Linked DNA regions of Homo sapiens. The protein of the gene in region 1 interacts with the protein of each later gene in a pairwise test. Each region holds a gene or a part of one and is shown on either strand. Other genes may lie near its edges. The genes, in order: KRT14, PUS10, CTTNBP2 and ABI3.

What was found.
Region 2: the proteins of KRT14 (region 1) and PUS10 interact in binary tests that used the Homo sapiens proteins (3 or more experiments, as listed by UniProt).
Region 3: the proteins of KRT14 (region 1) and CTTNBP2 interact in binary tests that used the Homo sapiens proteins (3 or more experiments, as listed by UniProt).
Region 4: the proteins of KRT14 (region 1) and ABI3 interact in binary tests that used the Homo sapiens proteins (3 or more experiments, as listed by UniProt).

Annotation. Positions count from the first base shown.
Region 1 is NC_000017.11:41,583,896-41,591,450, reverse strand, and holds the start of KRT14 (keratin, type I cytoskeletal 14), read left to right. Parts: upstream 1-4,555; 5' UTR 4,556-4,616; coding exon 4,617-5,141; intron 5,142-6,393; coding exon 6,394-6,476; intron 6,477-7,037; coding exon 7,038-7,194; intron 7,195-7,529; coding exon 7,530-7,555. UniProt on the Homo sapiens protein: The nonhelical tail domain is involved in promoting KRT5-KRT14 filaments to self-organize into large bundles and enhances the mechanical properties involved in resilience of keratin intermediate filaments in vitro.
Region 2 is NC_000002.12:61,015,233-61,023,187, reverse strand, and holds the start of PUS10 (tRNA pseudouridine synthase Pus10), read left to right. Parts: upstream 1-4,932; 5' UTR 4,933-5,180; intron 5,181-5,336; coding exon of another isoform or gene 5,337-5,428; exon of another isoform or gene 5,429-5,468; intron 5,469-5,756; exon of another isoform or gene 5,757-5,951; intron 5,952-5,964; exon of another isoform or gene 5,965-6,349; intron 6,350-7,955. Other genes in the region: PEX13 (peroxisome biogenesis factor 13), read right to left, coding at 5,337-5,428. UniProt on the Homo sapiens protein: Protein with different functions depending on its subcellular location: involved in miRNA processing in the nucleus and acts as a tRNA pseudouridylate synthase in the cytoplasm.
Region 3 is NC_000007.14:117,870,436-117,878,111, forward strand, and holds the start of CTTNBP2 (cortactin-binding protein 2), read right to left. Parts: upstream 3,007-7,676; 5' UTR 2,981-3,006; coding exon 2,900-2,980; intron 1,949-2,899; exon of another isoform or gene 1,791-1,948; intron 1,786-1,790; exon of another isoform or gene 1,502-1,785; coding exon of another isoform or gene 1,475-1,501; intron 1-1,474. UniProt on the Homo sapiens protein: Regulates the dendritic spine distribution of CTTN/cortactin in hippocampal neurons, and thus controls dendritic spinogenesis and dendritic spine maintenance.
Region 4 is NC_000017.11:49,213,707-49,220,706, forward strand, and holds part of ABI3 (ABI gene family member 3), read left to right. Parts: intron 1-2,824; coding exon 2,825-2,992; intron 2,993-4,032; coding exon 4,033-4,209; intron 4,210-5,833; coding exon 5,834-5,919; intron 5,920-6,151; coding exon 6,152-6,247; intron 6,248-6,462; coding exon 6,463-6,620; intron 6,621-7,000. UniProt on the Homo sapiens protein: May inhibit tumor metastasis. In vitro, reduces cell motility.

The DNA.
Region 1 (7,555 bases):
TGTATGATTCTTATGTAGTATGTTCACATTAGGGGAAGCTGGATGAAGGATACACAGGATACACAGGAACTCTCTGTCCTATTTTGTAACTTTTTCTTAAAGGCTAACATTATTTCATTTTTTTTTTTTTGGGAGACAGAGTCTTGCTCTGTTGCCCAGGCTGGAGTGCAGTGGTGCGATCTTGGGTCACTGCAATCTCTGCCTCCCAGGTTCAGTCAATTCTCCTGCCTCAGCTTCCCGAGTAGCTGAGATTACAGGCGCTTGCCATGACGCTCAGCTAACTTTTTGTATTTTTTAGTAGAGATGGGGTTTTGCCATGTTGGCCAGGCTGGTCTCAAACTCCTGGCCTCAAGTGATCTGCCATTTTGGCCTCCCAAAGTGCTGGGATTACAGGTGTGAGCCACTGTACCCAGCCAAGTCTAACATTATTTCAAAATAAACATTTTTTAAAAAAAGAAGCTGGGTGTGGTGGCTCATGCCTGTAATGCCAGCAGTTTGAGAGGCTGAGGTGGGAGAATCGTTTGAGCCCAAGAGTTTGAGACCAGCCTGGCAACATGGTGAGACCTTGTCTCTACAAAAAAGTAAAAACTCGCTGGGCATGGTGGCAGTCCTGGCTACTTGGGAAGCTGAGGTGGGAGGATCCCTTGGGCCCAGGAGATTGAGGCTGCAGTGAGCTGTGATCCCACCACTGCACTCCAGTCTGGGCAACAGAGGGAGACCCTGTGTAAAAAAAAAAAAAAAAAAAAAGTGGATGATGTCAAGTACGGACCCAAGACCTGAGAGTTCCGTGGCTCCCTGCCATCCAGTCCCTGGTGACTTGACGTGTCACGCTAAAGGCTGTTCCCAGAAGCCTTCCAGATTGGGCCGCCCCCACATCTCATCTCAACCATCTATCTCTCCACCCAGTTTTTACTATTGCTTTGCAAGGTGACAAGCACCCAGTCTGTTATGCGGTATAGTGGGTCAAATAGGGTTCCTCCAAATCGGGTCCACCTGGGACCTCAGAATGTGCCCTTATTTGGAAATAGGGGTTTTGCAGATGTAAGTAAGGTAAGGTTTGAGATGAGATCCTACTGGATTAGAGTGATTGCTAAATCCAATGAGTGTCCTACAAGAGACTGAAAAAGACAGAGATGAAGACTGTATGAAGATGAAGGCAGAGATAGGGCGACGCTGCCACAAGCCGAGGAACTCAGGGAGGCACCAGAAGCTGGAAGAGGCAAGGAAGGGCTCTTCCCCAGAGTCTTCAGAGGGAGTGTGGCCCTGCCAACACCTTGATTCAGGGCTTATGGTTTCCAGAATGTATTCCAGAGAGAATACATTTCTGTTGTTTTTTTTTGAGACGGAGTCTTGCTCTGTTGCCCACGCTGGAGTGCAGTGGCGTGATCTTGGCTCACTGCAACCTCTGCCTCCCGGATTCAAGTGATTCTTCTGCCTCAGCCTCTCGAGTAGTTGGGACTACAGGCACCTGCCACCACACCTGGCTAATTTTTGCATTTTTAGTAGAGATGGGGTTTCACCATATTGGCCAGGCTGGTCTTGAACTCCTGGCCTCAGGTGATCCACCTGCCTTGGCCTCCCAAAGTGCTGGGATTATATTCGTGAGCCACTGTGCCCAGCCAGTTGTTTTAAGCCATCAAATTTGTGGTAATTTGTTATGGCAGCCCTGGGAAACCAATCTTACTTGTCTGTGCTTTTCTTCCATTTGTTTGTATGTTAAGTAATGTTGATGTGCATTCCTGCTTCTCTTTCATGCTGGGACCTTCCTAAAGGCAGGGATCGTCTCTTCCAGTAGGCCATGCACTCCAAGGGCGGGGGCTGTCCTGAGGTTTCCTCCTTCCTTAGGATGCCATCTCCTGGTCCCCAGCACAGTCCTCAGCACACAGTGTGGGCTCTGGAGGTGCTGCCTGGCCCTGCCAGCTTCACCTGTTTGGATTGGCAGAGGGCTCCCCCATGCAGGGTGGTGCAGGGAGACTCACTAACCACAAGAGGTCCTGCCCGGGGCTCCTCCTTTACCCCCCTCCTTTTGGGGCAGGCTGGAGGGAGGGTCAGGTAATGGTGCTCACACAAAGTCTGCCTAGAAGTCCAGAGGTGGGGGGTACTCTGGGCCTCAGCAGTCAGGACTGACAACCCTTTAACCCCTGATGCCCCAGAAAATGCCCTCCCTTAAAATGTCTGAGTACCATGCTTCTTTGGCATCAGGGAGGGGAGGGGAGTGTGGTGTCCTCTAAGTCTGCTCCCTGCTTGGCTGGGTTGTTTGCAGCTCCTTGGTCACTGAGTCCTTGTCTGCAGGGGTTGGCCTCAGGCTCCAGGTTGGGTCACGGTTCTAAGACCGGGTGTGGGGGATCAGGCTTATATTCCATGCTAGGGTTCTGGTGTTGGTGCGTGGGGTTGGGGTGGGACTGCAGAAGTGCCTTTTAAGATTATGTGATTGACTGATCTGTCATTGGTTCCCTGCCATCTTTATCTTTTGGATTCCCCTCGGAGGAGGGGGAGGAAGGAGTTTCTTTTGGGTTTTATTGAATGAAATGAAAGGGAAAGTAGAGCTGTTCCTATGTCCCGGGCTCCGGAGCTTCTATTCCTGATCCCTGCATAAGAAGGAGACATGGTGGTGGTGGTGGTGGGTGGGGGTGGTGGGGCACAGAGGAAGCCGGTACTGGGCTCTGCACCCCATTCCCGCTCCCAGATCCCTCTGGACACAGCATTTTTCTCCAGTGAGCACAGCCTCCCCTTGCCCCACAGCCAACAGCAACATGCCTCCCAACAAAAGCATCTGTCCCTCAGCCAAAACCCCTGTTGCCTCTCTCTGGGGAAATTGTAGGGCTGGGCCAGGGTGGGGGGACCATTCTCTGCAGGGAGATTAGGAGTGTCTGTCAGGGGCGGGTGGAGCGGGGTGGGGCCCTGGCTTACTCACATCCTTGAGAGTCCTTTGCTGGCAGATTTGGGGAGCCCACAGCTCAGATGTCTGTCTCAGCATTGTCTTCCAAGCTCCTAGGCCACAGTAGTGGGGGGCTCCCTTCTCTGGCTTCTTCTTTGGTGACAGTCAAGGTGGGGTTGGGGGTGACAGAGGGTCCTGCTTCTCTTCTAGGAGCAGTTGATCCCAGGAAGAGCATTGGAGCCTCCAGCAGGGGCTGTTGGGGCCTGTCTGAGGAGATAGGATGCGTCAGGCAGCCCCAGACACGATCACATTCCTCTCAACATGCCTGCCGGGGTCTGTGGAGCCTAGGGGCTGATGGGAGGGTGGGGTGGGGGCCGGAAGGGTTTGCTTTGGGAGGTTGTCTGGGAGATTGCTGAAGTTTTGATATACACACCTCCAAAGCAGGACCAAGTGGACTCCTAGAAATGTCCCCTGACCCTTGGGGCTTCAGGAGTCAGGGACCCTCGTGTCCACCTCAGCCTTGCCCTTGGCACAGCCCAGCTCCACTCCAGCCTCTACTCCTCCCCAGAACATCTCCTGGGCCAGTTCCACAAGGGGCTCAAACGAGGGCGCCTGAGCTGCCCACACTAGGGATGTTCTGGGGGTCTGAGAAGATATCTGGGGCTGGAAGAATAAAAGGCCCCCCTAGGCCTGTTCCTGGATGCAGCTCCAGCCACTTTGGGGCTAAGCCTGGGCTATAACAATGCCAACGAGGCTTCTTGCCATACTCGGTTTACAAAACCCTTTCACATACATTGTCGCATTGGATTCTCAGAGCTGACTGCACTAAGCAGAATAGATGGTATGACTCCCACTTTGCAGATGAGAACACTGAGGCTCAGAGAAGTGCCAAGCCCTGGGTCACAGAGGCGTAAATGGCAGAGCCAGGACCCACCTGACTCCAGGCTGTTTCCTGGCCTCCATGAGGCCACCTGCCCTATGGTGTGGTGGATGTGAGATCCTCACCATAGGGAGGAGATTAGGGTCTGTGCTCAGGGCTGGGGAGAGCTGCCTGGATTTCTCTTTGATGGGGATGTTGGGGTGGGAACCACGATACACCTGACTAGCTGGGTGTATTTCAGGGATGGGACAGACTTCTCAGCACAGCATGGGAGGTCAGGCCTGGGAGGGCCCCCCAGACCTCCTTGTCTCTAATAGAGGGTCATGGTGAGGGAGGCCTGTCTGTGCCCAAGGTGACCTTGCCATGCCGGTGCTTTCCAGCCGGGTATCCATCCCCTGCAGCAGCAGGCTTCCTCTACGTGGATGTTAAAGGCCCATTCAGTTCATGGAGAGCTAGCAGGTAACTAGGTTTAAGGTGCAGAGGCCCTGCTCTCTGTCACCCTGGCTAAGCCCAGTGCGCGGGTTCCTGAGGGCTGGGACTCCCAGGGTCCGATGGGAAAGTGTAGCCTGCAGGCCCACACCTCCCCCTGTGAATCACGCCTGGCGGGACAAGAAAGCCCAAAACACTCCAAACAATGAGTTTCCAGTAAAATATGACAGACATGATGAGGCGGATGAGAGGAGGGACCTGGCTGGGAGTTGGCGCTAGCCTGTGGGTGATGAAAGCCAAGGGGAATGGAAAGTGCCAGACCCGCCCCCTACCCACGAGTATAAAGCACTCGCATCCCTTTCCAATTTACCCGAGCACCTTCTCTTCACTCAGCCAACTGCTCGCTCGCTCACCTCCCTCCTCTGCACCATGACCACCTGCAGCCGCCAGTTCACCTCCTCCAGCTCCATGAAGGGCTCCTGCGGCATCGGGGGCGGCATCGGGGGCGGCTCCAGCCGCATCTCCTCCGTCCTGGCCGGAGGGTCCTGCCGCGCCCCCAGCACCTACGGGGGCGGCCTGTCTGTCTCATCCTCCCGCTTCTCCTCTGGGGGAGCCTGCGGGCTGGGGGGCGGCTATGGCGGTGGCTTCAGCAGCAGCAGCAGCAGCTTTGGTAGTGGCTTTGGGGGAGGATATGGTGGTGGCCTTGGTGCTGGCTTGGGTGGTGGCTTTGGTGGTGGCTTTGCTGGTGGTGATGGGCTTCTGGTGGGCAGTGAGAAGGTGACCATGCAGAACCTCAATGACCGCCTGGCCTCCTACCTGGACAAGGTGCGTGCTCTGGAGGAGGCCAACGCCGACCTGGAAGTGAAGATCCGTGACTGGTACCAGAGGCAGCGGCCTGCTGAGATCAAAGACTACAGTCCCTACTTCAAGACCATTGAGGACCTGAGGAACAAGGTGGGTGAATGGGCAGCAGAAGGCACCATTCCAGCTAGCTCCTTCTGGGAACAATTCATGCCCCAGGCCCCTGAGACCTTAAGATTTCTCTATAGGACAGAGTCCACCCCAGATCCCTTCTTTCGAGGTCTTGGATGCCCTAAGACTGATCAGTGAGAAGATGCTTTCCCTTCCCCAGCCTCCTCATCCCCTTCTGATCTCAAATCCTCAGACCATGTGAGATCAGTGATTCCTATCCTTACATTTTTTAGAGGAAGCAGTTGAAGCTTCGAGAGGTGCTGTGACCAGCTGCAGGTCACATAGCAAATTAATGGCAGAGCCAAGGCTGGGGCCCTTGTGCCCTACCTTCCAGCACAGGAGGCAGCTACTTGTTCTCCAGCACAGGGGAGGAGTGAGGCTCTAACGGGACCAGGCAAGACATCCAAACCACTCATTAGCTCACTAGTCTGGGCTGTGGCTGCCGCCGCCCATAAGCCTTGGTACAGGCTGGTCCCTCCCCACAGCCAGGCGGGCATGGAGAGCCTGCAGAGACAATTAGTGTGGTCCCTTGATGTGCCCTGCACAGAGAGAGCCTGGCAGGCTTGTGCCCTGACTCTAGCCCCCTCCTCCCTGCTCCCACATTACTTGGGAGCCCTCCCTGCTGGAGTCTGTTGGGCTCTAATGACTTGCATGGATTAGGGAAATTCAATGATGAGGTGGGGAAATCCAACCAGACTCAGGGGCCAATATATCTTCTTATTCTTCCCCTGAGTCCTCTTTTCTAATCCCCTGTGTTAGTTGGGTTTTATCTCTTGAGAAAGTTCCACTTGAAGTCCCATGGCCTGTGAGCTTGAAAAGGAATGTGCATATCTGCAGAGGACTGGCAGGGCTGGCTGATGCAGACAGAAGAGAGGTCAGCTCAGGAAGGAGGGCTAGGGAGCCTCAGATTATTCTCCTCACCTGGAGGTGGGGAACTTGAAGCCCCAAGACCCATTAGGTTTTGCAGCAAGACACTGGCAGAATTGGGACCAGAACTCCTGGGCTTTCGATTCTAAGCCCGGGGCTGCATCTACCCCCTCTGTTGACCATGAGTTAGCAAAGTCTTAGGACAGGCCTGGGGCATCTGTTTTCCTTTGGGCTGCTATGGTCAAGTTTTGTGGGGGAAAAGGGGGATTCAGGCAAGAACATGAAGCAAGAGCTTAATGTAGGCTACAGTGAAGTCCAGCTTGTGAAGTCCATTTGACAAATTACCTGTGCCTTTTCCATCCTGCAGATTCTCACAGCCACAGTGGACAATGCCAATGTCCTTCTGCAGATTGACAATGCCCGTCTGGCCGCGGATGACTTCCGCACCAAGTGAGTTTGAAATGGTGGGCCAGAACATCCAGTGTCCCCAGAGTAGGGCATTTTTGGAGCAGTGTTTCCCAAATAGAACTAGCCAGTACCAGGATAGGTGCATGAAAACTCCCTGGGGTGCTTATAAAAGAATAAGACTCTTGGGCCCCACCCTTGGAGTTTTGATTCAGCTATTTATAGCAGGTTACCTGGGTGATTCTGGTCCACAGCCAGGTTTCAGAACCGCTGCTTTAGGGAGAGGCACTTTCCACTTCCCCAGCTGCCCTTGAAGTATAGGAAGGAATCATAGTTGGAGGACTTCTGCATTATTTGTTGGCTGAAGCTAGAAGTGCAACCCCCTCCTGATTTCTGCAGCAAGATGAACTGCCTTATCCCCAGCCCGCAGGAATGTTCATATCTGAGCAATCAATGGGCACTGTGTTCAACCACGCCATTTTCAAGATTGGCTCCTTAAACCACCCACAAGGCACCAGCTCTGGGAGAAGCTGCAGGGAGAAGAGAACAAAGCCCTCGCTGTGATCAGGATGGGTGTCTCATACCTTTTCTCTGGGGTCATTCCAGGTATGAGACAGAGTTGAACCTGCGCATGAGTGTGGAAGCCGACATCAATGGCCTGCGCAGGGTGCTGGACGAACTGACCCTGGCCAGAGCTGACCTGGAGATGCAGATTGAGAGCCTGAAGGAGGAGCTGGCCTACCTGAAGAAGAACCACGAGGAGGTGAGAACTATATGGAAAAGTCAGCTTAAAAGAAATGCAGGGAGGCTGGGTACAGTGGTGCGTGCCCATAGTCCCAGCTACTTGGGAGGCTGAGACAGGAGGATCACTTGAACACAGGAGTTTGAGTCCAGCCTGGGCAACAAGGCTAGACCCTGTCCAAAAAAAAAAAAAAAAAAAAAAAAAAAAAGAGAGAGAGAGAGAGAGATTGAGAGAGAGAGAGAGAAGGGAGAGTCGAGATAGAATTGTGATGGTGGGAGGGCAGTATTCAGGCCTAAGGAACACCAATCCGCTGCCATGGTGGAACTCCTGACTGTGGACTGTCCCTGGCTGTGCAGGAGATGAATGCCCTGAGAGGCCAGGT
Region 2 (7,955 bases), on another chromosome or scaffold:
ACTAAAAATATAAAAATTAGTTGGGCATGGTGGCATGCACCTGTAGTCCCAGCTACTCAGGAGGCTGAGGCAGGAGGACCACTTAATCCCAGGATGTAGAAGCTGCAGTGAGCCATGACTGCACCACTGCACTCCAGCCCGGGTGGCAGAGTGAGACACTGTCTGAAAAAAAAAAGGAAATTAGACTCAACAGAAAAACCTATCTAGCTATAAAACTTTGATACAAAACCAGAATAGTACAAAGAAAAAAAATTCAATTTCACCTAGGAACATGTATGCAACAGTCTCACAATATTAGAATAGAGTTCTTTTTCTTTTTGGAGACAGGGTCTTGCTATGTCACCCAGGCTGGAGTGCAGTGGTATGATGACAGCTCACTGCAGCCTTGAACTCCTGGACTCAAAGGGATCCTCCCACCTCAGCCTCCCTAGTGGCTAGGACTACAGGCACACACCACTACACCTGGCCAATTTTAAAATTTTTTATAGACAGAGTCTTGTTATGTTGCTCAGACTAGTCTTGAACTTCTGGCCTCAAGCAATCCTCCTGCCCTGGCCTTCCAAAATGCTAGGATTACAAATGTGAACCACTCCAACTGGTTTAGAATAGAATTTGGAATTGCATATCAGAAAAAAATCAAGACTAATCAAAGTTCATTGAGAAATGCAAGGATGGTTCAACAATAGAAGGTTGATACAATAAACATTTTCTCTAATCTTGTCTTCTCACTTTATTTCATCAATTTGATCTTCAATTACTGATATCCTTTTTTCCACTTGATTGAATCAGCTATTGAAGCTTGTGCGTGCATCACGAAGTTCTTGTGCCATGGTTTTCAGCTCCATCAGGTCATTTAAGGTCTTCTCTACACTGTTTATTCTAGTAAGCCATTCATCTAACCTTTTTTCAAGGTTTTTAGCTTCTTTGCGACGGGTTAGAACATGCTCCTTTAGCTCGGAGAAGTTTGTTATTGCCGACCTTCTGAAGCCTACTTCTGTCAACTCGTCAAAGTCATTCTCTGTCCAGCTTTGTTCCGTTGCTGGCAAGGAGCTGCGATCCTTTGGAGGAGATGAGGTGCTCTGATTTTTAGAATTTTCAGCTTTTCTGCTCTGGTTTCTCCCCATCTTTGTGGTTTTATCTACCTTTGGTCTTTGATGTTGGTAACCTACAAATGGGGTTTTGGTGTGGATGTCCTTTTTGTTGATGTTGAAGCTATTCCTTTCTGTCTACTAGTTTTCCTTCTAATGGTCACGTCCCTCAGCTGCAGGTCTGTTGGAGTTTGCTGGAGGTCCACTGCAGACCCTGTTTGCCTGGGTATCACCAGCAGAGGCTACAGAACAGCAAATATTGCTGCCTGATCCTTCCTCTGGAAGCTTTGTCCCAGAGGGACACCTGCCTGTTTGAGGTGTCTGTCAGCCCCTACTGGGAGGTGTTTCCCAGTCAGGCTACACGGGGGTCAGGGACCCACTTGAGGAGGCCGTCTGTCCGTTCTCAGAGCTCAAACACCATGCTGGGAGAACCACTGCTCTCTTCAGAGCTATCAGACAGGGACGTTTAAGTCCACAGAAGTTTCTGCTGCCTTTTGCTCAGCTATGCCCTGCCCACAGAGCTGAAGTCTATGGAGGCAGTAGGCCTTGCTGAGCTGCAGTGGGCTCCTCCCAGTTCAAGCTTCCTGGGCGCTCTGTTTACCTACTCAAGCCTCAGCAATGGTGGATTCCCCTCCCCCTGCCAGGCTGCTGCCTCGCAGATTGATCTCAGACTGCTGTGCTAGCACTGAGCAAGGCTCCATGGGTATAGGATCCGTCAAGCCAGGCATGGGAGAGAATCTCCTGGTCTGCTTGTTGCTAAGACTGTGGAAAAAGCCCACTATTTGGGCAGAAGTGTCCCATTTTTCCAGGTATAGTCTGTCACGGCATCCCTTGGTTAGGAAAGGGAAATCCCCCAATCCCTTGCGCTTCCTGGGTGAGGTGATGCCCCGCCTCGATTTGGCTCACCCTCCATGGGGTGCGACCAGTGTTCAACCAGTCCCAGTGAGATGAACCAGGTACCTCAGTTGGAAACACAGAAATCACCCGTCCTGTGCGTCAATCACGCTGGGAGCTGCAGACCAGAGCTGTTCCTATTCCCACATTTTCATACTAAAGCGAAAATACATACAATGGTCTCAACAGATGCAGAAAAGCCATTCATAAAATTTAATATTTCTTCACAATAAAAATCTGAGCAAGGTAAGGGCTGGGCATAGTGACTCACACCTGTAATCTCAGCACTTTGGGAGGCCTAGGTGGGCAGATCACCTGAGGTCAGGAGTTCAAGACCAGCCTGGCCAACATAGTGAAACCCCATCTCTATTAAAAATACAAAAATTAGCTGGGCGGAGTGGCACGCGCCTGTAGTCTCAACTGTCCGGGAGACTGAGGCAGGAGAATCACTTGAACCCAGGAGGTAGAGGTTGCCATGAGCCAAGATTGCGTCTCTGCACTCCAGCCTGGGAGACACAGTGAGACTCCATCTCAAACAAAAATAAAAATGAAATAAAAATAAAATAAAATAAATCTGAGCAAGGTAGAGAGAGAGAATTTTGACAAGATATCTATCAAAAACAAAAAGCAAACTTCACATTTAACAGTAAAACTTCAGAAGCACTCCAGTGGAAGTCAGGACCAATACAAGGATGCTAGCTTATCTGTAAATGACAGAACTGGCTACACAAAACTAAAGAGAATTTCAACCAAACCATCAGAACTAATTAAGAGTTTGAGATTATGCTGTACATAATATTTACATTAAAAAAAATCAATAGCATTCTGCCATACCAGTTAATAACCAACTGGAAAATGTAAAAGGAAAAAAGAAAGCCCATTTGCAACTACTACAGCAAAAATAATCTAGGAATAAAAAATAAAATATGGAAAAAAATTTCATGGAGGTAATTATAAGTTTTTTGTTGTTGTTGTTGTTTGAGATGGAGTCTCCCTCTGTTGCCCAGGCTGCAGTGCAGTGGCGTGATCTTGGCTCACTGCAAGCTCCGCCTCGTGGGTTCACGCCATTCTCCTGCCTCAGCCTCCTGATTAGCTGGGACTACAGGTGCCCGCCACCGCACCCAGCTAATGTTTTTTTGTATTTTTAGTAGAGACGGGGTTTCTCCGAGTTAGCCAGGATGGTCTCGATCTCCTGACCTCGTGATCTGCCCGCCCAGTCTCCCAAAGTGGATAATTATAAGATATTTAAGGCAAAAAGATAAATTCCCACCAATTGTAGCTTATACAATATTCATGGAATAAAAACTTACTTGATCCATAAATTCAGCTCAGTTCCAATAAAAATCCCAGTAAGTCTTTTTATAAAGGACTAAGTGTAAAGAGCGCAATTACAAAGAACAGCAATGTGTGGAAACTCTTGACATACTACATATCAAGACTTATAAAATTCTGTAATTAAGATAGTGTGGTGCTAGTAGAAAGTCAGAAAATGCCCAAAACAGAACTACATATTTAGGAAACCTTGATATGACATAGATGGCATTAAAAACTAAGAATAGACTACTCAATAAATGGTGCTGCGACAATTAGTTACCTATATGGAAAAAAAAATTAGATTTTTATACAAAGTCAGTTCCATGTGGATTAAATGCAAATGAAAAAACCGGAAGATTTAAAAGAAAACATACAGAAAAACTGTCCTGATCTAGGTAGACAGGATTTCTTAACCAAGACAAAAAGCATAAACAATAAAATATGACAATTTTGGCTGTATTAAAATCAAAAACATCTGTACAAAAAATTGAACATAAATATAAAGAGGAGAAGCCACACAGTGAAAAATATTAGCAAAATGTAGTAACAAAAAAGGATTAGTTTAACAATACTCTTACAAATTGGTAAGCAAAGATAAAGCCAATAGAAAATTGGGCAACAGAAAAAACAAAAACAGATACAAAAAATAATATATAAATAGTAACATGTAATTAGATATAAAATATATATTATTGTTACATTGTTAAGTTTTAGATATAAAATGCATATAAATAGCACAAACCTAAGTACTAAAATATAAAAACATTACTGGGTATGCGAAACACCAAATAAGGACAATAGTCACCACTATAAAGAAGAATGGGAGAGTTTAGCCGTCTTTTATTTTGAAAAATTCGACATAAGTCTGGCAAATGTTAACACTGTTTAAAGTTGAGTAGTGAATATATAGGTATTATCTTACTCTCTACTGGTCTCTGTGTTTAAAATATTTCACGATAAAGTGGGAAAATGGTTAATTTTACATAAAAAGAACTTTAACAGATGCAAAAAATAAAACCTCTCTCATTCGACAAGCAGCCTAAATGGGGAAAAAAGAACCCACTCAAAAAAAAGGTAGCAGATAATGTCACCGTGGCTTACCAGCCTAATCAAACTTATTACTTGTTATGTATATATCCTTATTAAACTAAGTCGTTACTGTGTTAAAGCATTTTAGTGTTTAAATAAAAGATTTCAGAATACAGCAGAAATACATTCCAATATGTTGGGGTTTTTACGCTTAGGAAAACCTACAATAGTAGGTGATTTGACATTTGAATCACACCTATCTGAATTAAGATGTCCAGCACTACCAAACAAAAGCCACACGAGGCCACGAAACACTCCCAACTCTGCATGTTTTAGCCTTTTTAAAGTCCTAGAAACCAACTGATACTGATTAAAAACCAAACAAAAAAAAAATACAGGCCTCAGAAAAATACACTATTTTGCACACAAAGTCCATCCATAGGCCTCAGATCTAGAACTCCTGCTTTAAAGTTGCTTCTCCAATCTCGATCCGAAACACTGGCTGAGTTATGCTGGAAAAGAATGCAAAGTGTACGGGGCTTGAGTTCCTGTTGCGTAAAACCTTTCCGGCTTTCAGCAACTTCTCGAGAGGTTAACACCTTTAAGGAGAGACTTTGCTCCCTGTCGATGCCGTGGCTGGACAAATGCCGCTCTCAACTGCTACAGACCAAAGTCTACGCTTTAAAGATAGAGAAGCCATTCTGTCAAAGTGAAAACAGAAGCGGTAGGTAGGAAGCCGCCCCCCTTTCTTTCAAGCACAGAGACCCAGAGAGACGCCCAGGAGCTCCCGAAAAAAACGTTGCTGATTAGAGCTGCCGGGTCAGAAACAGCTGTGAGACACTAAAGTCCCCACTGGTAAGCGCCCCAGCTCCACCTCGGCCCCTATCCCCAAGGTTGGGTATTGGTTAAAGGGGGGAAGGGAATACCTCCACTAACAACCGCTACAACCGCCTCCTGCCAAGTCCCCGCTCGGGCCCACTAAACTCACAGCCTGAAGAATCCCACACTCACTGGAAAGTGGGGCCCGGTCCTGGTCCCGGTCCGGCTCCCGGAATTCGGCGGGTCTCCCAGGGTTTGGGGGGAGGTGGCGGCTGGGACGCCATCTCCTCCGCCTCCTCTCGGCTCCCGCTCCTACCCCTGACTGTCCAGGCCCGCGTAGACCAGCACCTGGAGCGTAAGACACAACGGGCAGAACACCGAGCCGTCCACCCCGCCCACCCTTGCAGTCAGGACAAGGCTTGAGTTACTTTGCCAGCTGAATCCATACAGCGGGAGGATGCCACTAATTTGTAGGAAGAAACACGCTCTTTGTATTTGCCCCAGAAAGAGCTGCCTTTCTAAACCTCAGGGTAAAGGCTCATCGATATTTCTGGTAGCGGCTACAACTCCCTAGACGTCGGAGTCCCACCGAGGCTTTTCTGGGAGTGGACCAGTCGGGCTGGGAGTAAAGCCGCACGCACTCCTTCGCTCGTGGGGGAGGTAGGGTGAGGTGGCAAACCAGGCAGTTTTTCGGATTTCCTCTACAAACAAGAAGGGAGAAGCTCACTTAGTCCTAGCGAGAGCGGGCTGGTACTTTTGTTCTAAAACGCACGTTTCCTCGGGGAACAGAATTGCTAGACGCAATAGGTGCGTTGTCTTTAGTCTTCCCTCTTCCCTTCGAGGGCCGGAAGGGGTTAAATCTCAGGCTCCGGCGTCTGGGGAGAAGGTGAGGCGGGTAGGTAAGAGGTGAAGGAGTGCAGACTGGGTGCAAAAGAGGTGTGGCGGGAGAGAGTTCGTTTCTCTCCTGCTGGAGCGGCTTTGTTAGCAAAGGAGGGGTGAGTGGGAAGTTTGTTGCACCTGACCGAAGGGGGAAGGGCTTGCTTGGCGAAAACTGAGGCTTGAGGTTAGATCTCGGGATGAACTTTTCAAGAGTCCACAGTAGATTCCAGAGCTGAATGTTTCAGAAGCCCAGTGAAGTGTGATCACCTCTTTCTCCGTAAATCCACACCCCCAGCCCCACGCCGCGTTACGAATGACACCCTTCGGTAGGGAAATGAGTTTTAAAAGATCTTAGGATATGAGACTCAGTCTGGTCATTTCGCTAGTTTTTCTTATACCCTGCCCCTTTTCTCGTTTTCGATGACTGGTTTTTGTAATCGTCCAAGAGGTGAAAATAAAGTCCTTCCTCTCCTCCAGTAAGCCAGAGACTGGGCTAGTTATCCTTGATTTGGGGAGGAGGGATTCAGTCCTCCTAGGGAGCCTGACACATGAAAGGCGGCTTTGTAGCAACTTGTTACAGAGTTATTTCTATAAAACAAACACATAAACGAAAAGCAAACATCTTGAGGGTAACCAACACTGGAAAACTTACATTGTGGAATGCCTTTCTCAGGGCTTGCTTTCAAACATAATAAATCTAATATGGACAACCGATTTCTAATATCTTATGAAATCCTGGCATTTAATTATCTCACGATGAAAAAACCAAATTTAAGACGTAACGTATTTTCTCCTTTTAATGTTAACATTCTTGAGAAGTTGATAAATTGTTGGTAGGTGAAAATGATGTTGAGAGGTTTGTAAATTCATAGCTCGTTTATTAACACACATTCAAAAGAGGTCTTTTTTGGGGTCTATTTTTAGACCTCTTCAAATTACTCAGGACTGGAAGTTTTGTAATTCTCATCAATCAGGTTTGGGAACTTCTCAGAGCCAGGAGATTGTAATGTGTCATTTATTTACTTTGCATGATACCTTTGTTCTTGTGAACTTACTGGAAAAATAAACATTGTCTTCTAGCCATGGAAAATAAAATAAATTTTAATATAGCTATTTAAGTATCGAGGGAAATCTTCATTAAGTGTCCTTTTAAAGTGCTTATTGATTTATTGGAAGAGGGTGTATTTCTTCTGTCTCTTTTTGAGTTAAATGTTACTTCTGAATTAAGTAAAATTCTTGACCTTAACTAATGGAGAAAAAATAACTTAGAGTAACAGGTGAAACAGAAACAGTTTCTCTGTGTATGTAGTCAGAGATGCACTGTAAATGCTTATATTCGCCCCTCACAGCATCCGATCTCTTCTCTGCATCAAAGTAGATTAAATGGGCTGGGAAAAGGGATCCAGATCACTAGTAAATAGTAATGACTTGACCTTGACCACACAGATCTTATTTATTTATTTATTGAGATGGAGTCTCGCTCTGTTGCCCAGACTGGAGTACAGTGGCACGATTTTGGCTCTCTGCAACCTCTGCCTCCTGGGTTCGGGCGATTCTCCTGCCTCAGCCTCCTGAGTAGCTGGGACTACAGGTGCGTGCCACCACGCATGGCTAATTTTTTGTATTTTTAGTAGAGATGGGATTTCATCGTGTTAGCCAGGATGGTCTCGATCTCCTGACCTCATGATCCTCCTGCCTCAGCCTCCCAAAGTCCTGGGCTTACTGCAACCTCCACCTACTGGGTTCAAGTGATTCTCCTGCCTCAACCTCCCGAGTAGCAGGGATTACAGGTGCACACCTCCACACGTGGCTAATTTTTGTATTTTAGTAGAGATGGAGTTTTACCATGTTGGCCAGGCTGGTCTTGAACTCCAGACCTCAAGTGATAATGCCTGCCTCGGCCTCCCAAAGTGCTGGGATTACAGGCGTGAG
Region 3 (7,676 bases), on another chromosome or scaffold:
CAAGTTCAGCTGTTAATTTGTTTAACATCACTGTCGTGCATTTTAAATCATTGTCCAAGTTTTTCTTTGTCACTGCCACCATGACAACAAATTTTATACCTACTTCTTGTCTATTAGCTGCTCCAGAAAAGCTCAGAATGACAAGAATGTTGGTTGGCTTCCCAAATATAGCTCTAAAAAGATCTCCATTTTCCTTTCATTCCAAAATTCTTTGGTGACAATAAAAAGCATGAAGATTTCGTTTTCCATACTGCCTTATCCATTAGGAGTTATTTTCAGAGTGGAAACAGCAATATGGCCTATAAAAGTCATCACATTTGGCTAAGGCACTGAAAATAGCCCAGGTTTCCCGGCACGGTTCACGGCAAAGACTATTAATATGATCCTATTGAATAATGTAGCTGTTACCCAGCCTTAAACTTGGGATGCTTTCAGGATTTAAACAGCTAAGAATGAGGATCACAAACTAAATTTAAAACATTCCACTAAAAATGATATTAAACTGAAAACTATAAATTAAGCTTGTTTCTAAGCAACAATCTAAATAGTCAAAGCTTAGTGAAAACACTCACTTTCAAAAATAGCCTACTGCTTTAGAGCTTCCATTGACTCCTTACTGCCAAATGTATACATAAAAATGCACGATATGTAAACCAATTTGAAAGTCAACAAATCTCCAAAATGCAAAGTGAATTGTTCACTAAAATAAAAAATATCAGTCAACAAGAACCCAAAATGCATAAAACGCCTCTGATTTTTAAGGAGCAATTGTGATGACACATATCACTCCTCTACACTAGCTTTCCTTTCACTTAAAAATCAGTCTATAGGTCAAGCGGCTGATATGAGAGAACCATGCCTTATTAAGTCAAAACTATTTGGAGAACTAAAATAAAAGGCCCAATTTACTACAAAAGCCATCATCAAAATTTTACTAAAAATTCAGAAATTATTACTGGTTTTTAAACTACTAGATGAAGAATCCTTATTGCATCTCGCAACCCTAAAGGATTCTATGGAAATAGCAAAGAAGGTTCACTTTCGCAGATTTTCCATGGCTCTGCCCATTAACAAGGGTGAAATTATCAAATCCCCAACTATCAGCAGTGAAAATCAGACTTGAACATTTTAAACAGAAGAGAGGGAACACTGACCTTGTTAACACAGAAATCTGCCTGGCGTCCTGGGTTTTGTTTACGATCTAACCAAACAAAACTATATATCAGCTCTACAGACCATCAGTCAGATGTTTGTGTTTGGGTTAATTGTCAGGTGATTAAAATATTGAGGGTAACAGAAACCCATTCTGAGTGGATTAAGTAAACAAATTCAACCTTTCTGGGGAACAAGAAACACACCACACACACACACACACACACACACCCTCTTTCTTTTTCGTCCTTCCCCTTCACACACACACACACACACACACACACACACCCTCTTTCTTTTTCCTCGTCCTTCCCCTTCCCACCTTTTGGGGATGAAGGCACCAAATCATTTCCACTTGCCAGAGAGCCTTGTCTCAATAGCTAGTTTCCTTACTGTGCCCCACAGAGGGGAGCTGATTCACATAAGTGGGCAGGTTTCGTTTGAAATCTTAAAGTTCTCATTTTCTATGCAAAGAATGGAAACTCAATTTTCCCAAAAGTTCAAATCAAAACTTGCCAGTTTTACAAGTGGAAATTAGCAGTCCTCCTCCCCGTTTCTCCTTCCATTGCCAGGCTCAGCTCCTCTCACCCCAAGTACCTTCCTCCACATCTCTCCTCTCCCTCTCCAGAAAGCCCTACCTCCAGAGGGTGGGAGGAAGTTAAAGCGGCCCCCGCTGTTTACGCCCGGCCCTGCCCTCTCCTGCACTGATTCTGCTCAGGTCTTGATAGGAAGAGGGGGGCGTCCACGCCCCGCTCGCTCCATCCCACCCCATCCTTCGGCGGGAGCAGCCAGATCTGGCCAAGAGTGGGAGGCGCTCCCAGATCTGCCTTTCTCTGCAGCTCCTTGCAGCTCCTGCGAAGCTGCTTCCCAAACACCGAGAACCTTTTCCACCCAGGAAATGTGGGTCCAGCCCTTCCCCAAAGTAGAGGCTGGAAACCACCAGCGAGTCTCTACACCGGAATATTAAGGGGGTGAAAGTAAGGACCAGTCAAGAATGGTAGCGCATTCGGCCTCTAGACTCCAGAGAAGGAGAACAATGTCTTGAAACCAGGTGCAGAACCTCCACCTCTCCTGAGCATCGTCTCGGGAAGAACCAATCCATCCACCCCACCCCAATCACTACCACCAAGTAATGGGGCAGCAGGCTGCTAGGACCTAAAGCGCTGGCCTCAGCGGCAGCAGCGCCCACATCTGGACACGGCCCTCTCCCAGTGGGCCTCCCGAAGGCACAGGACCAGATGCACACAATGGGCATCCCCACACCTGCTGGGCGATGGCCCACCTCCCCCAAGCTGCTCTCCCGGGTCCGCTGAGCGGTACCAGGCACCCCCGAGACACGCGCTGGCAACCACGCGCGCAGCGAGAGGTGAACAATGGGGGGTCAAATTCGCCAGGAAACACGTCCCAGCCTTCTCCCCCGGCCAGAAGCGACCGCAGCGGAGGGAGTGGGCATAGGGGTCGCACTGGACGCAGACAGGGAGCTGGGAGAACCGGGCGACCCGGGGCCGCTTCCCGTGGGGCGCGGAAGGGACAGGAGGGATCCCCAGCCAGGGTGGCCGCTCCGCTCCCCCCCGCGGCCTCCGCCGTGTGGGCATCCCGAGGAAGGGGGGCCCCGATGAAGGGGCACCGGAGAGTCCCGGGCTTACGGAACGCCCCGGGGGTGCGAAGTCGGGTCCGGCTGGGACCCCGGCGCCGCCCCCGGCCCGCGTCTACACTAGCCCCGCGCCCGCCCCGGGAACTCGGTTACCGCCGCCTCCGCCGCGGCCCCCGCCGCGTCCTCCGGGGCCCGGGACAAGTCGGGCTCGCAGCTCGCGCCGTCCGTCGCCATCTTCCTGCTCTAGCGGATCCGAATGCGAGCTCGGAGCCGCGGCTCCGGACTCAGCCGTCTCCGCGCGGGCGGCACTTAACCCGCTGCTGTCCGGGACGCGGGCGCCTGGAGCCGGGAGCCGGGAGCCGCGGCACTCCCTCCGCCCCTCGCCACCGCCCTCGCCGCTTAACCCGCTGCGCGCCGGAGCGCCCCGCCTCGGTCCCGCCCCGCGCCCCGCGTCCCGCGCCCGGTGGCGCCAGCCGCGGGCTCGTGGAGGTGCGAGAAATGGGCGCACGACCTGGCTCCGCTGCGGCCCTGCGCGGGGACTGGGGATCAAAGACCACGGAAGAGGTGAAGGCAGAAAGCGCCCGAGGAGCGTTGCATTCCGCAGAACCCCAACCAAGCCGGAGAAATCCGTGCACAGACCAGATTAAATGTCAGGCCTCCTGAATCTGAATTCTCTGAAAGATCAGGGAAAATCCTACACTTCAGCTCCCTCTATCCCACCGCGAGGAATCACACAGGGCACCCCTTTCTTCTTAAATTGCTCTTTCTTAAATTTCATTGCCGCCAGGGTGTTTTTATCCTCCCTATATATATACACACCTGGCTCTGATTTATTCTATCGTTGACTCTAGTGTTTCTCCAAAAACAATTCTCAGATGAAAACGATTTGTCTGTCCTGTTTTCTTTTAGAACGTGGCACCAGCCCCTCAGCTCCTAACTTTCTATACAATCTCCTTTTCAGGGAATGTGTAGCGGGCTGTTTTATATTCTGTGACCCCCCTAAGTCTGAGATCTCTCCTGAAGGACTAACTGAGAAGTGTTAAATGTCATAGCTTTAAAAGCTAAATGTCATGTCCTCTACTTTTGAGAGAATTTAAAAAAATTACTCCCTACGTGTGAGGACACGTGTACATATACACCAAAAACAATCAAACAAAAGCCGTATTTGTAAAAATAGATTTTATGGGAATTACACGTCTCAGAAGATTTTTCATGAGATGAGTGAATTAGGCCCAAACGCTTAATCTTCCCTTTCCACATCTAATTCAGTTCCTACCCTTTGCTGCCAATTTCCAGAATGTGAAAATCTATCACCTCACCAAGACCATATGGTACAGCCCTTCCCAAATCACCAGATCCCTAAAAATGTGTCGAATGCATAAAATCAAATTGAGACATTCAAGCTGTGTCTCAAAGACGTAAAATCAAACCACAACCAAATCTTGCACTTGAAATTTTGGAAGATGAATGACTAGAATGTTCAGTCCAAGGGTTACAGATCAAAGCTTTTTTTTTTTTTTTCCTTTTTTCTTTCTTTCTTTCTTTCTTCTTTTTTTAATGGCAGGCTCCTAATGAAAGGTTTTGACTCTTTAATTGCTCCACTTTCCAAATTAGACCCAAATATGACACAAACCAGGGCAGAGAAAATCTTTTCTGCAAAGACCCTGAAAGGGATTGATTAATAAACTGTGAAAAGTTCCCTCCCAGAAGAGAGGTCAAGAAAGAACTTTACCTAGAACTCTGGGGCTAAAAGTCAGAGGCTTAGAAATCATCTCCAGGTTATCCTGTGAGTACAGGTACTTATTTATTTATTTATTTATTTATTTATATTGGCTCTGATAGTTACTCCCTCACTTATCCCTTTAATATCCATCCCTGTTCATTATACCACTTTCCTTTATTAAGTATACTCTCTAAAACTGCTCAATATTAGAATAACTAGATTTCTTTAAGATTAAAGAAAACCACTGGACAGTAAAAGTTAGATGTCAAACTGATAGTAAAAATTTAAAGTCCAAGGGCATTCCTTGTTCTTTTCAAAATGCACTTCCACACATTGCAAGGCAATCAATTTTCTTGATTCTGATGTTGAATACTTCTCAAGCAATTAACTGGCAAACTTCTGGAAAAAATAATAATAATAAGTTTTACTCAGGGTTAAGAGTTAGAAATATGAAATGACACCATCTCTGGGAAGCAAATCCCTTTTATACATGCAGCCCAATTTTTAAAAAAAAATCACTGGGAAAAAATTAGCTTGTATTCACCTAAATACAATTAAAGCAGGATCATGTTACAAGGAAATCAGTCCTTGCCCACCCCCCCCCCCCACCGCAAACCCCCACCCATCATTTTTTGTTTGTTTTTGTGAAATGGAAAAAAAATAAATAAAACAGTGATAAAAATCACAGGACACCACATTCTCTAACCACCAAAATCCAGTACCTGGGAAGGAGAATTGACAGCATTCTGTTTCCACCTTAAAACCAGCACTGTTGAAGGTTGGCTGAGGATCTCACCTACTGCACAGAAGTGGCACACTAGGAGTTAACTTCCTCACTAGTAGCCTGGCCTGGGGCTGCTTCTCCACCAGGAGGACACTTGCTGGTTTCAATTCTCTCTTGAGAATTAGTCTCTGCTACTATTGCAAATTAACTCTTTCTAAGACTTTCTTTGCACAAAGGCAGGCTCTATTACAGTCAAAGCAAATAGATGTGAAAGGGTATTGACTTGATGGCTCCAGAAATTAAATCTTTTGAAGCCTCATTAAACAGCTAAATAATAATAATAATTAATAATAAAAATAAAAGATATCCCAGGGTTACAGTGAAAATTACTGAAAGGCAGGGTAAAAAAGGAGAAAGATAGAAGTATAAACAGGAGGAAAATAAATCCCTACAACAAAAATGAATCATGAGTCTTAATCAGTAAATTCCTTTTGGCATTAAAATGGAAGGAGTAATACTGAATATATTGCAAATAGAGAAAACTATTATTTACATCCTTTTTTTGGATCATAACGATGCTGATGACCCACTGACTAAAGAATTTGAGGGTAATTATTTTCCAAACCCTGGAATAGAGGTATTTGTGTTGAGCTATAGCACACTCTCTAAGGGTGAAATGACCAGGGAAATGAGTTCTTAAAGGTGGGAATGCAGACAGATGTTTGGGAGCCAAGTGGTTTTCTGATTAAACCATGTCCTTGGCTTCATCAGCCATATCCTCCAACCCACTAAACCAAAAACCCAGAGTTATACATATGATACAACAGGATGCTTCCTTCCATGTGAAAAGATAAAGGAATATACACAGAACCTAAAACTCTTTCCGTCATGGAGTAAGAGAATTATTTATTTCAGTCAAATGACAACATTTATGTTAATTCCAAAGAGCAAACCATATGTCATCATGTCTTAGTATTGCCAAATGACAAAATTATTGAGTAGCAAATCATTTCTGACTGTATCCTCAAGCCTATAGTTATACAATTTAAATATTGCAGACCATGCTTGTCCCTGTCTGCAGCATGGTGACCAACCTAGGAAGCCCCAAATCTTGACGTCAGGAACTCCGCAGATGAGCTCTGAGTGTCCATTGCCAGAAACAAGTTTTCCTATGACCTAACTACATTCCCTCATAGCACATGTCATTAGCTACATGTGCCTCAGGCTTTTTGTGGATTTTACTCAGTAAATTTAATTCTAATCTAGTTAGCCACTCTTGTCAACAATCTATGGTTTTGGAAGGCCTCCTCCACCAACTGCAGTTGGTGTGTGCCAAAGGAATGCAAGCTAATTTTACCTAAGCTAAAGCAAAACATAATTAGGGAATTAAATCTGCTATGTAGGAAGCAAGCCAAAGCGAAACATAAATAATTATCATAATCACTCCCAGCCCCTTTTAATACAACCTTTAACTGGGAACTGTATCTGTTCATTCAATTGCTGAAATAATGTACAAATATAAGATTTGACTGCAAGGTTAGAGCCACATTAAGAAAATCATCCCCCGGTACAGTCACTCTAAGAACAGAAACCAGCTAATACCAAACAATGAAGTAGTGTTGGTTCCATTCTCTTGCATGGTTTTTACATTTTAAATCATTAGTTGTTGGTTTGGATGCTTATCTGCAGAAGTCATTTACAAGAGTAAATTTTAGTGCAGAAAGATGTTTTAGTGCAATACCATTATGGAAAAACAATTTTAACAAAAAAAAAAATCTGGCCTGCTCTTGCCCCTTATCCACCTGAATTGGAAATGGACCTGAATATTTCTGTTTATTCAGCCTCTTTAGCAAACTCACAAGCCTGCAGTATATAGTTACTAGGCAATCATTAAAGCAGGGGTGTTTATACCATTAGGCATTACTCATAGTGGAGCTTCATTTATCTTAGAAAGTTTAAAAACTATATAAATATGTTGTGAGATCAGGCCCTTTTCTCCTCTGATTAGAAGTGTGGATCCAGCTGCAAAACCACAGCTGAGATTTTTCTTTCACTTGGGGATATGCACTGTTCAACACAAAAGGAAATTTAGTGTTCGAAGAATTAATAAGAACACTAAAGATGTTATCTTTTGATTTTAATAAATATGCATATGGCATTTATGATTGACTCAGTGAGGATTTACTTAGGATACAAAAAGCAGGAGAAAAGCTATACATGTGTAACTCTCCTGTGTCAAATTGTGAAATAAACCAATACATTAACACTTCCTAGACAATCATAATCAATTGTCATATACCAAATTAATAGAGTTTCAAATACATTTGGAATTTTTGAGATGTAAATTTCACCTTACCCTGCCTCAAATCTCACTTGATGACAATAGTTTGTGGCTGTTTTTTTTTGTCCATCAAGACTTTTTTTATTAATCCAAATTAGTTGGGGTTATTTAAAAATCACCTGGAAATGTGATGACATTATTT
Region 4 (7,000 bases), 7.6 Mb from region 1:
AGATGCCCAGAGCTGGGCCCAAGCAGACACTTTTCCTGTTTGGGCCAACAATTCCACATGTTCGTTTGGGGAGGAAACTGTACAGAAGAAGGCAGGCAAGCTAAGAAATCTGGGTGGAGATGAAGGAGCAGTCACTGCTCAGTTCTGGGCCTGTTTCCTCATTTAGTAAAGGAAGGTCCTGAACTAAATCAAAATCTGCTCTCCTGTCTGGTGTTAATATCCTGGGTTGATTTCTTTGCCTATTCAATCTTCTTGGTGACCTATGCTGAGGAGATGTAAGTTTTGGTGCATATGCTAATGAGATGTAAATGACATGCAAATGAGCATCTCTTTCCTGCTGTTGGAAAAGAAAGACAAGGAGGAGAGAGCCATCGCATGGGCTGCCCAGAAGGTTCTGGCTCAGGCTCCATTAGAGGCTCCCAGGTGTCTCAGACCTTGCTCTGAGAGTTTGTAGGTCTGTTCTCCATTGACAGGCCCTGAGGGGCACCCGAGGGCTCAAGCAAGGGGACCCCAGTGTGCAGCCTTGCCTGTTGGCCCACTGGCCCTACTCCACATTCACCCTGGACTTGCCCCCTACCTGCCTTAGAAAGGTACAGGCTAGAGTATGGCAACTCCATGACCCGACCAGAGATGAGGAAGCTGCCCGGGGAACCAAAAGACCGGAGAAGTTTTGCCCTAGCCCCCACTGCCTGATCTGGGACCAACAAAAAAAAATTTCTTGGCCAGGCGCAGTGGCTCACGCCTGTAATCCCAGCACTTTGGGAGGCCAAGGCAGGCAGATCACCTGAGGTCAGGAGTTGAAGATCAGCCTGACCAGCATGGAGAAACCGCATCTCTACTAAAAATACAAAAAATTAGCTGGGCGTGGCGGTGCATGCCTGTAATCCCAGCTACTCGGAAGGCTGAGGCAGGAGAATCGCTTGAACCCAGGAGGCGGAGGTTGGGGTGAGCTGAGATTGTGCCATTGCACTCCAGCCTGGGCAACAAGAGCAAAACTCTGTCTCGAAAAACAAACAAAAAAAACTTCTTGCCTTCAGCCACTGCCTGCTTACTCCTCCTGCACTGACTGGCAGTGTGACCCTGGCCAGTGCCTGGCACAGTGCCTAGAATACAGTGGGAATGTGCCCAGAGAATGTTTGGGTTCCCATTCGACCTGCTAATTAACTCACGAGTGCATATTTATGAAGAATCTTTTGCGTGTTGGGTGTGATTCCATGACGGGATACAGGATGAAACAGACAAGCTCCCTGCTCTCATGACACTTCCGTTTAAGGCAAGGGGGCGTAGATAACGAAAAAAATACATAGAGAATGTTTGATACTGCTAAATACCATGAAGAAAAGAGAACAAGGTAAATATGATAAAGAGGCAGTGAAGGCGTGGGCTGGGGGAAATCTTAGTGTGGTGAAGGAAGGTGTCTCTGAGAAGCTGAGGCCTGCTAATAAGGATTCTGAAAATAAGTACAGCACATGCCAAGGCCCCGAGGCAGAAACAGTTCAGCTTGTTCAGGAACAGAAGCCCAATGGCCAATGTGGCTGAAGGGGAGTGTGTGAGAGGGGGAGTGGTGAAGTTGGATTAAAGGGGATGAAGGTGAAGAGAAAGGCAGGAGCCAGACCTGGAGGGGCTGTACGTAGGCCACGGTTAGAAGCTTGAATTTTATCCTCAGGGTATTGGAAAGCTATTAGAGGGAATGAATGAATAAAGTCCCTCTGTTCTGGGCCTCAGTTTCCTTATTTGAGTTCCCAGACACCAATCTGCAGACTGGAGCTAAACAGTCACATGGAAAGCTTTTTTTTTTGGTTTGATTTTGAGACAGGGTCTCACTCTGTCACGCAGGCTGGAGTGCAGTGATGTGATTTTGGCTCACTGCAACCTCCGCCTCCCGGGTTCAAGTGATTCTCATGCCTCAGCCTCCTGAGTAGCTGGGATTACAGGCAGGCACCACCATGCCTGGCTAATTTTTGTATTTTTAGTAGAGACGAGGTTTTGCCATTGTAGCCAGGCTGGTCTCAAACTCCCGACCTCAAGTGATTTGCCCGCCTGGGCCTCCCAAAGTAGTGGGATTACAGGTGTAAGCCACCGTGCCTGACATGGTTTGTTGTGTTTAAAAATGTCGGCTGGGCACGGTGGCTCACGCCTGTAATCCCAGCAGTTTGGGAGGCTGAGGCAGGCAAATCACCTGAGGTCGGGAGTTTGAGACCAGCCTGACTAACATGGAGAAACCCTGTCTCTACTAAAAAAAAAAAATTACAAAATAAGCTGGGCGTGGTGGCACATGCTTGTAATCCCAACTACTTGGGAGGCTGAGGCAGGAGAATCGCTTGAACTCGGAAGGCGGAGGTTGTGGTGAGCCGAGATCGCACCACTGCACTCCAGCCTGGGCAACAAGAGTGAAACTCCATCTCAGAAAAAAAAAAAAAAAAAGAATGTCTGCTCTAGCCAGTGTTGCCTTCCTCTTTCCTTTCTACTATTCACCCCCACTCCAACCCCTAAAAGGACAGCCTGTTACTGAAGTCTTCAGGAGGGTTGTACTATCATCTGTACTCAGTCCTCAGCTTAACTATTTGAGAATGGGTATCTTTCCCTCCCTTTGCATCCATTCCCCAAGGCTGCAGATTCACTTTTTTAAAGTGAATTTAAAGTGATGTTGTAGCAAGTTCCTCTTGCTACATCATTCTGCTGGGAGCCACCTCAAACATCTAAGGGTTGCTGCTCTCTCCCAATCCAGCCCCTACTTTCCCTATATCCTCTCCCATCCCACCCCAGCCAGCCAAGGACCCAGTGGAAGATGCTGGCCCTTAGGCCAGGGCTGTGTGTATTTCAGGCCACAGACAAGCGGAAGGCGCTGGAGGAGACCATGGCCTTCACTACCCAGGCACTGGCCAGCGTGGCCTACCAGGTGGGCAACCTGGCCGGGCACACTCTGCGCATGTTGGACCTGCAGGGGGCCGCCCTGCGGCAGGTGGAAGCCCGTGTAAGCACGCTGGGCCAGGTAAGGGGCGTGGGGCGTGGGAAGGCATCTTGTGTCAGGCCTCAACTCTTCAGCCCGACTCAGACATTTTCTACATCAAAAGTTCCTTCCTGCTTTCCTCCATGTCCAAATGCCCAACTCTACAGCAGAAGGTTGGCACTTCCCAAGCTTTTTGGACCTCCTTATCTCTGTGGCTACGCTACAAATTCCCCGAAGGCAGAGCTTTTTCTTTCTCGGAATTATATCCTGGACATGAGAAAGTGTTATCTACCAATCACAGCAGCGCCCTATACAGGAAAGAAGCAAATGAACCCTGTTTGCATCTAAATACAAGCAGTGCCCTCATAAATATCCCAGACCCAGGGTGCTAGCTTGACAAGGTCATCTTCAGCCCTGGAAGCACAGCCACCACTATACAGTATACACCCTCCACCCCGCCACAGTGTTCTAGCGCACACACCCTCCTCCTTCCTTCCTGGATCCTTGACCGAGGAATTGCCCCATAAAGCACATGCACAGACCCAGCCACACATTTGGCCTGGCCTGTACATCACCCACATGTTCAGTGGGTGGGGTGTGTCTTTTCCTCCCCCGCCGCAGACCAGAGTTCCCACCCTTTCGAACTGTAGGCTTTCTCCATGGAACATTCTGAGAGGAAGTCAATTTACTTATTTGTCCCCCAAAGGGGAGAGCTGATCCAGCCACCATTCTCTGCCACCTCCATATTCTCCCCCTCTGCTCCGAAGTCAGCCGGGTGCTTGTCTCCTCCCAGCATCCCTAGGGATGTTGTGTTTTCTCTTTTCCTCCTGTTCCTGCACAGCTAATAATAACCCATACTCTCTTTCCACCAGGAAGTTGCTCCAAAGTGGCTCCATCCTTTCCTGCTACTTTTCCCAATTGCTATGTAGCCTGGTGGGGGGCGGGGGGCGGGGGGCAGGGCCCTCTTTTTCTAGACCTGGCTGCCTCCCCCCCCCAGCCCAGTCTTTATCTTCTTCCTCCTTAGGGGGAAGGGTGCTGGACACAGACCACCCCTCTCTGTCACCTTGAACCCTGTCATGCAGATGGTGAACATGCATATGGAGAAGGTGGCCCGAAGGGAGATCGGCACCTTAGCCACTGTCCAGCGGCTGCCCCCCGGCCAGAAGGTCATCGCCCCAGAGAACCTACCCCCTCTCACGCCCTACTGCAGGAGACCCCTCAACTTTGGCTGCCTGGACGACATTGGCCATGGGATCAAGGTAGAGAGAGGGGCCCTCCTCTTTCCCTCCAACCCACCCTCTCGTGCCTTGTGGCCCCTTTCCCTCCAGAACCCCAGTTCTGCAAGTTTTGTCCCCACTTGCCACTCCTTTCTTTCCCCGCTCCCTGAAACCACCACTCTGAGCTCTTCTCCCTCTCCCTAGATTTTGTAATCCCTCCCTCCAAAACTGGTCTGTACCATCCTCGGAGGATCTGCTGAGTGTGAGATCCTGAGCACCCCTCGCCCCCCCGCCCTGCCCCTGTGGGCACCGGGCGTGTGGGAAGGGGAAGAGGGGGAAGGGAGGATGTCAGGGTGTGCATGAGAATGGCTCCCAGCCACATGAGAACAGCAACTTCCTCTGTCTGGGGGTTTGAGGTCACTGCACTGAGCAGTCACCCCAGAGCTGCTGTTGGTGAGAAGAAGCGGGGATACAGCCACACAAAGGGGACTTGGTGAAGGGAGGGGAGCATGGCGCTGGCGTCTTCTCAGCCTATGTCCTTCTGCGAGGTCAGAAAGGGCACGCACTCACACCCGTCCCACCTTCAATTCCTGTCTCCACACCTTAACATTTCTGTATCAAAATGAGCCCCTTGATATCCTTAACTTATCAGCCCCCCTTAAAGGGGAAACGACATTCTCCCCTTCAACCACCAGGCCTCCTTCCCACCAGTAGTTCTCTGTTGTCCAACTTATATTTTTTTTTTTTGAGATGGAGTTTCGCTCTTGTTGTCCAGGTTGGAGTGCAATGGCACGATCTTGGCTCACTGCAACTTCCGCCTCCCAGGTTCAAGTGATTCTCCTGCCTCAGCCTCCCAAGTAGCTGGGATTACAGGCGCCCGCCACCATGCCCGGCTAATTTTTTTTTTTTTTTTTTGTATTTTTAGTAGAGATAGGGTTTCTCCATGGTGGCCAGGCTGGTCTTGAACTCCTGAACTCAGGTGATCCTCTTGCCTGAGCCACCCAAAGTTCTGGGATTACAGGTGTGAGCCACCACTCGCGGCCCAACTTATATTCTTTGTGCTTCAGCTCAAATCTCTTTTGTCTTGCCCCTGGTGAAGCCCATGGGGTAACACTGTACCCACCCCTTGGGGAAGTCCCATTGGTAACAGCAGTTCCCTCTTTCATGTAGGCGTGCACCCTGTCATTTGCGCATCCCCTCTAAGTGGCCTGGGTCTTGCTCCTCTCTGCCCTAACTCCCCAAAGCCAGTTCCACAAATCTTCGAAAATGAAAGGTGGGACACTTCTAAGTGTGATGTGTCCTCTCCTTTCTCCGCCCCCTCCTCAGCCCGATCAAAGTTAGGGACCACCAAGCCAGGGCCCCAGCTTCCTGGGCTCTGAGATGGTCTGGGGGAGGGACAGGGGTGCTGGGCCCACTCAACCCGCTGTGGCTGTGCAGAGGAAGTGGCTGTGGGCTTTGGTAGAACTGAGTCCCAGAACCCAGGCAATGACAAGGGGGTGGGGTGGGGGAAGTGTAGGAGAGGGGCCTGAGAAGTGGAAGTGGGAACTGGCTATGCCGGGCTCTCCCTCCCGGTTCCCGTCCGCCCCTCCTCCATTTCCTCTTGGGGATGAGGGTGGAGGGAGGCCCCTCACCCCAAATGTAAGCCCTACCTCCCGCTCCCTCGCAGGACCTCAGCACGCAGCTGTCAAGAACAGGCACCCTGTCTCGAAAGAGCATCAAGGCCCCTGCCACACCCGCCTCCGCCACCTTGGGGTGAGGCCTCGCCGCGACGCCAACTAGCCTAGCCCTGCCCCGCGCGACCCTGAAACTCTCCTCCCCCAGCCTCGCCACCCACCCCTGGCGCCCCCGGGTGCTCAGGCCGTCATGCTGGATGCCTGGCGCCAAACCTCCCCCTCGGCCACCTGCCCTTCCTGCTCGCACCCGACCCCTGCTGGCCAGAAGCCTTCCTCCTTCCTCCTAATACCCACTCCCTGCCCCCCGCCAGGAGACCACCCCGGATTCCCGAGCCAGTGCACCTGCCGGTGGTGCCCGACGGCAGACTCTCCGCCGCCTCCTCTGCGTTTTCCCTGGCCTCGGCCGGGTGAGACCTACAAGCCCACGTGGGTGGGTGGGGGGTGGGAAGTGGCTTTTGAGAGGGGCCACCTGCCAGTGGTCATAGTGACTCCTGGGCTTGAAAGGACCCAGTTACTCCTGGGTCACACGTGCAGGGCTGGGGTCAGGATTGGAGGGGTGGGGCCAGTTGGGGATGCTGCATTAGGGAAGGCGTGTCCGCCAACCGGGCTCTCTGGTGTTCAGCAGCGCCGAAGGTGTCGGTGGGGCCCCCACGCCCAAGGGGCAGGCAGCACCTCCAGCCCCACCTCTCCCCAGCTCCTTGGACCCACCTCCTCCACCAGCAGCCGTCGAGGTGTTCCAGCGGCCTCCCACGCTGGAGGAGTTGTCCCCACCCCCACCGGGTAAGGAGGTCCACCCTCTTCTTCCCAACCGTGGGGTCGCTTTTCTGCCTCCTGCCACTCCCCAGCCCACCTCTCTTGGATCTGCCCCGGCCAGCCTCAGTGAATGCCTCCTCCAAGGAGCGCAGCACAGGGGCGAAAGGAGACAGAGGAAGTGAACTAACATAACTTAGCGCCTGCTGTATACCAGACCCTGTGTTCGAAGATTCTCATCCATTTTCTCATTTGAACTTAATCCTGGCCGGGCGCGGTGGCTCACCCCTGTAATCCCAGCAGTTTGGGTGGCCGAGGCGCGCGGATCACCTGAGGTCGGGAGTTCGAGACCAGCCTGACCAAAATGGAGAAATCCGGTCTCTACTAAAAATACAAAATTGACCGGGCGT